2 linked regions of the Homo sapiens genome follow. The protein of the gene in region 2 interacts with the protein of the main gene of each other region in a pairwise test. Each region holds a gene or a part of one and is shown on either strand. Other genes may lie near its edges.

The links. The genes of interacting proteins can lie anywhere in the genome.
Region 1: the proteins of EPCAM (region 2) and NEK7 interact in binary tests that used the Homo sapiens proteins (3 or more experiments, as listed by UniProt).

Annotation. Positions count from the first base shown.
Region 1 is NC_000001.11:198,296,498-198,299,997, reverse strand, and holds part of NEK7 (serine/threonine-protein kinase Nek7), read right to left. Parts: intron 2,872-3,500; coding exon 2,758-2,871; intron 1-2,757. UniProt on the Homo sapiens protein: Protein kinase which plays an important role in mitotic cell cycle progression. Required for microtubule nucleation activity of the centrosome, robust mitotic spindle formation and cytokinesis.
Region 2 is NC_000002.12:47,379,311-47,382,810, reverse strand, and holds part of EPCAM (epithelial cell adhesion molecule precursor), read right to left. Parts: intron 3,043-3,500; coding exon 2,842-3,042; intron 1-2,841.

The DNA.
Region 1 (3,500 bases), on a different chromosome or scaffold from region 2:
TATTTGTACACACTAAGACTCACATAATTCAAAAGAAAAGATTTGACATTCAGGCTTATTTTTCTAAAACTTCTCATTTTTTGTTTTAATGCTTAATTGTTATGTATGTTTTAGAATATAAGATAGGAAATTAAAAGAAAAATCCCAAGCTTTTAAACTCTAGGTTCTTAGATAGAATGACTATATCTAGAAATAAATTGTGTAGGGTTCCTGAGGATTCCTATCAACTGAGGCTGACTGGCAGGTATGGCTAGTATTCTCATGAAATCCTCCCTTAAAATCTTGTTTGGGCAGTAACCTTAAAAATTTGGCAGTAGCTACACAAATTTGGTAAGCTCATAAATACATACCTGATAAGTTGATTTGCTTAAATTTTTTTATTTTTCAAATAGTTACACACTCTGTTATCATTGTAGCTATAAAATTAACAAAATAAACTGTCTTTTAATTAAAAGTTCACTGTTGAAAAACTCTGTACTTCACTTTTTATTAGTTCCTGTATTTTGCCATACTAACAAATTAAATGATATTCTAGATTTTTAAAAGATCTAAAAAGCCTACTTTACTTAAAAAATTTAAGACATTATAGCACTACCAAATTTGGGATTTTTGGCTACCATGAATTCTGAATAATTATTTTACAAATTGAGTTCCTGCTTAAGGAGAGAAAATATTTATTAGCACATCTGCATTTCAAAGCTCTTGTTTTGAGAACTCTTCTACATAACTAAATAGATTAAAGTAACATTGTTATACAGTCCGCATATTTTTATATTCATTTCTTTAGTAAGAATTATTTTCCACATTTACCTAGAAACTACAGCTTTCTATTTCATCAGGGAATGACAACACATTTTACCAATACGAGGAATCACATTTTTTTGGAAAGTACACCATATAATGTGTTTTGCTTTACAGCTCTTTTCGAAACTGGTAACTATATAGAGTGAAGTAAAAAGTGGAATCTATTTTCCTTTCCCAACTCTAAGACCTTCTATCTGGGCCAGACTTTGATATTTGCCCCTTGGCTGAGAATCCGCATATCCAACTTCACACTTAGCTGCAGTGAAGTAGCCCTGCAGGCAGGCCGACTTCAACGAACCACTAGTGGTATCATCATTAAAATCCTGCTGAAGGTCACCATGGTAACCGCCTGCTGAGGCTTCACTGCTGCACTCGGCATCTCCTAATCAGCTACCATGTGAAATGCAAATTCAGACAGTCTGAAAATTAGTCAAGAAGAATAGGGGATGAGGATGCAGATATGTGAAATATTCATGCGCTTCATGGAAAAAAGAAGACAGCATGAATGACACAACAAAGAAAGGCCCCTGACATTCTTGCTATCATTTTGCATTATTGTTCACACCCCACTGTATTTCCAGGCCTATAGTTCTGAAGTTGGTTTTGTGAAATGCCATATTTATAGTCTATACCCAAAATAGTAATTAAAAATGGCTAACATAATAGTATTAACATCAAATAAAGATAATACTTTTAAATTATCATCACTGCTCTGTAACAGTTTATTCTAATTACCTGAATACAAATGCTATGCAGAAAAAAACAGGCATCACTGATTATCAGTATCAAAACTACCAGAAGAAAAAGTGCCTATTATATTCTAGGAACACAAATGCTTTACATGTGGTGAAAATTCTTTAGAGATATTTATTATTCAAGTTACACGAACTCAAATTTCCTTACATAATACTAAGACCCTATGCTATTCGTTTCACAATAGAAAGACTGACATGATTACCTAATAAGTGAACATTATAATTGTTTTATATTTTTCCTTTTCTCCTTTCCATTTTCCTGAGGCAAAAAATCTGTTGCTCATGAGAAGGTGCGATGTCCTAACTCAACACACTATTTTCTCTGGGTAGGTCCCTGATGAGTATTCCATAAAGAGCTAATATGAAACATTTTAGTTGACCTGAGATACTGCTATTCTGCATACATCCTCCTTAAATATTCGTAAAATGATGATACGTTAGGCTAAAATGGGAGATGTTTTGTTCAATGAAAGACTGGACATAGGGTAGAGCCAAAACAACTCACTTCAATGGGTTACCAAAGCAAGCAAGCAAGCATTCAGACTCAGATCTTAATAAGGTAGCCTTCTAAGATTTTCAGCCACAACTAACACACTTTTTAAACATGTCTACAATGATAACCTCGAAACATTTCCCCAGTAGAATCTGAGTATAGCAGTGAGGTGATGATAGGACAGGTATTGTCAAAGGAGAGAAGGTAAAGCTTAAATAATAAGGCTCAGAGATATGTAGTTAAGAGATGCGTGTTTCGAGTTTTGGAAAACATGGACGAAAGGGAAGTTCTGCCAAAATAGAAAATTACAACTGTGTGCTGGTCTGGTCTGGGACTGTGAGAATAAGGAGTTAGCCCTGTTAGGAAGGGCCATCAGACATGATGATTAACTAGAGCCTAAGTATGAGCATTAATTCTGCCCTTTGCACGATTCAGTACACTGTAGAGTCAGCTACTATTCTTATCACACCTAGAAAGTGGCCAATTTTACACCACATGCTGTGTTGTGTTGCACTACACATTATCAATTGCAGAGTCAACTCTTTAGACAGCAAGTCTCCAAGAGAATGAAAACAGAATTAAAAAGTGCTAGTTCTGCTACCTATACCATTCATTTTCATTTTTGGATAAAGTAAAATTTCTTGGTAAAATAAAAATGTTAGCAAAATGGACAACAGAAGAACATGTGGGCTGAAAATGACTTACTTCTTCTGAATAGTGATCTGAAGGAAGAGGTGGGTAGTCACACTGTTCTATCTTCTTACACAGTGAGTATAAATTCATTTTGTCACCATAGAAAGGACTTTGTAATGCAGCCATCTGTAAAATGCCCCCAATGAAACTGATATAGTTAGATGGTAACTTAAAAGGTGATTTCATCAAGTATATTATACGGGGGTAGAAAATAATCACAAATATTTTAAATAGAGATACCTGGGCATTTTGATTTTTATGAATATCCCCTTCTGAGGAAATTTATTAAGAGTTAAAAATCTTACTGCAACTTTTGGTTATTTTTTTTCCAACATTTAAAATTCCCTAAAATAGAGAATTAGCATATTTCTTTATATACAAATGCAACATAAAACAATAAAGAAAAATAACACATAATTTAAAAACTCTTTGTACCTATAATGACACAAAAACAACTACTATATCTCACAACAAAACAGTCATCACAAGGTGTAGCTCAACCATACAGAACAAACATGAAACTGAAGTTAAAACTGAATTATAATCTAGCATAGGGAAGAGAATGCAGAGCATTTTCTCTTGCATAATAGTTTCTGAAGATAAAGGTTATTCTGAGAAAAAGCAGTCTTTTCAATTTAAATGCAATAACTGATCCCCAAATAGTTTACAATGAATTAGAACTCTTTTGATAATGTCTCAAAAACATTAAATTAAATATGTTCAAAAGCTCTATGAGTCATAGCTGTAATTCAAGG
Region 2 (3,500 bases):
CGAACTCATTCACCATTCACATTATTCCCTATCGTAGATACAATAAACATAATTTACTCTCTTACTGATACACACTCAGGCTATTTTCCAGATTCACTTTTGTTGTTGTTTTTATTCATTTTTTGAGACAGAGTTTTGCTCTCGTTGCCCAGGCTGGAGTGCAATGACATGATCTCGGCTCACTACAACCTCTGCCTCCTGGGTTCAAGTGACTCTCCTGCCTCAGCCTCCTGAGTAGCCAGAATGACAGGCATGCACCACCATGCCTGGCTCATTTTGTATTTTTAGTAGAGACGGGGTTTCTCCGTGTTGGTCAGGCTGGTCTCGGACTCCCAGCCTCAGGTGATCTGCCCACCTCAGCCTCCCAAAGTGCTGGGATTATAGGCGTAAGCCACCACGCCTGGCCAGATTCACCTTTACAAGCAATGCTATGATACAATAACAATGTGCTTCCTTATTGCACTTGTGTTTTCATTTATTTCTACAGAACAATTAGACTTCCAGCATTAACCACTTGTGTTCATTTGCCATCTGAAATTTCTATTAACTGTCTATCCCTACCTGTTGTCATTCTTTCTTTAGGTTTCCTCATCAATTTGTAAGAACTCTTTGTATATTATGTATAATATCCATTTTTGCTTTATGCGCCATATTTTTTTCATGCCCATCGTTATTTTTTACTTTACAGTTTCTTTGCCATATAAAATGCTTAATTTTAATGAAGCCAAAATATATATATATAGGACTAGGTGCAATGGCTCATGCCTGTAATCCCAGCAGTTTGGGAGGCTAAGCCAAAAGAACTGCTTGAGCCTAGGAGTTCAAGCCCAGCCTCGGCAGCCATAGCAAGAATTCGTCTCTACTAAAAATTAAAAAATTAGCCAGGTATAGTGGCACATACCTGTAGTCCTTGCTACTTGGGAGGATAGGTCAGGAGGATTACTTAAGTCCAGGAATTGGAGGTTGCAGTGAGTTATGATCATGCTACTGCACTCCAGCCTGGGTGACACAGCAAGACCCTCTCTCAAAATATACATACACATATATGTATCTTTTCTTTCATGGATTCCAGATTTCTTGCCTTACATAATTTCCCCTACCACAAGGTTGTACAAACATTCCCTCAATTAATTTTCTTGGGAGTTTACTTTTTTGTATTTTTAAATATGTAAATGTCTTTGAAAATGGATACACTGCCCAACGCCTTTCCTACTACTGTGCTCTGGACATGCCACCCTCACACAGCTGGGCAATATGGCCAGCCTGGTGGAGTGAAATAGGAATTCAACTTTCATTTTGTTCCAGATGGATAGCCAAACATGGTTGATTGAACTGGAAATCTAAGTTCCTAAATACCCTCAAACCTCTTTCTGAATTCTGTTGTGTTAGTAAGATTTCTTTTTTTTTTTTTTTTTTTTGAGACGGAGTTTCACTCTTGTTGCTCAGGCTGGAGTGCAATGGCATGATCTCAGCTGCAACCTCCACCTCCTGGGTTCAAGTGATTCTCCTGCCTCAGCCTCCTGAGTAGCTGGGATTACAGGCATGAGACACCATGCCCGGATAATTTTGTATTTTTAGTAGAGATGGGGTTTCTCCACGTTGGTCAGGCTGGTCTCGAACTCCCGACCTCGGGTGATCCACCCGCCTCAGCCTCCCAAAGTGCTGGGATTACAGGCATGAGCCACTGTGCCTGGCCTTTTTTTTTTTTTTTTTTTTTTTTTTTTTGAGACAGAGTCTTGCTCTGTCACCCAGATTAGAGTGCAGTGGCATGATCTTGGCGCACTACAACCTCTGCTTCCCAGGTTCAAGCTATTCTCCTGCCTCAGCCTCCCGAATAGATTACAGGCATGTGCCACCACGCCCAGCTAATTTTTTTGTATGTTCAGTAGAGACAGGGTTTCACCATGTTGGCCAGGCTGGTCTCGAACTTCTGATCTCAAGTGATCTACCCGCCTCAGCCTTCCAAAGTGCTGCGATTACAGGCCTGAGCCATCACACCTGGCCAGTGTTAGTAAGATTTCTTGATACCGAAGCATCCTTACATTCCTAAAATAAACCTTTCACTTCTTCAAGCAATACATTCTTTTGCTGAAGCACTGTTAAATTCAATTTGCTCATCTTTACTTGGAAGTATTGATTCACATATCACTTTTAACTCTTTTGTATGGCTAACGTTAACTTTGTGTTCTGTTGTTCCATCTTATTGAGTGGTTTGGGGGTTCAGGTATTTTGCACTAGGTGTTGAATTGTTTGCAGTGACAACTGAAAGACGCTTGCTGCTAGATGGCAATTTAACTGGCCTGTGAGGTGCACAGCCACAAGCTTTTTAATATTAGCATCCTTTCTTGCTTCATAAAATGACTTTTGTAAAAAGAGACCAGAGATACAATAGATTCATTCACCATAAAAAAATTATTTAAAAATGAAGATTTTTTTCCCTGAATGTTTTGGAATATGGATGTTACTTTTTCATATTTCCTTTTTTCTTCTTTTTGAGACAGGGTCCTGCTGTGTTGCCCAGGCTGGAGTGCAGTGGTGTGATCATGGCTCACTGCAGCTTTGACCTCCTGGACTCAACTGACCACTCCCACATCAGCCTCCTAAGTAGATGGGACCACAGGTGCAAGCCATCACATCTGACTAATTTTTGTATTTTTACTACAGATAAGGTTTCACCATGTTGCCCAGTGTGGTCTCAAACTCCTGGGCTCAAGTGATCCACCTGTCTCAGCCTCCCAAAGTGTAGGGATAACAGGTGTGGTGAGCCACCGCGCCCAGCCACTATTACTTTTTCTTGAAAAAATATACCCTTAAATGAAATTTTACTTGTTCTGTACTCACCAGCACAACAATTCCAGCAACAACTGCTATCACCACAACCACAATAACAGCAATAACACCAGCTTTTAGACCCTGCATTGAGAATTCAGGTGCTTTTTCATCAACATAATAAATTAAAGTTTGACCAGGATCCAGATCCAGTTGTTCCCCATTTACTGTCAGGTCCATTTTCTTAGAATGAAACAAGGATTCACCTTTAACCTGTATTGAAAAGGAGAAAAGGAATTAAAAATATTTAAGGAAACCAACCATGGCCACATATAATTACATACAAATTGTATGCCAAAAGAACCGCTGCCAAGAATCTTTATGGTTTTAGTGATAACAATCTAATTTATTGGAACTTTAAAAAACTGTTTATTACAGGAACCTTTCAACATACACGAAAGTAGAAAGAGTAGTGCAATGATGCCCATGTACCTATCACCCAGATGCAAGGCCAACAACACATAGCCTCTCTTACTTCATCTTTTCTTCCTTTCATCCTTTCACCCCCGCCCAGATTATTTTGAAGCAAACCTCATATTTCAGCAGAAAATACCTCACTATAATATATTAAAGTTTCAACAAAATATTTTAATCATATCAGTTACAGTCTTTTTTAACAGACTTTTATTTGTGTAAATTATAAATATCATAGGGGAGCATATATGCACAAA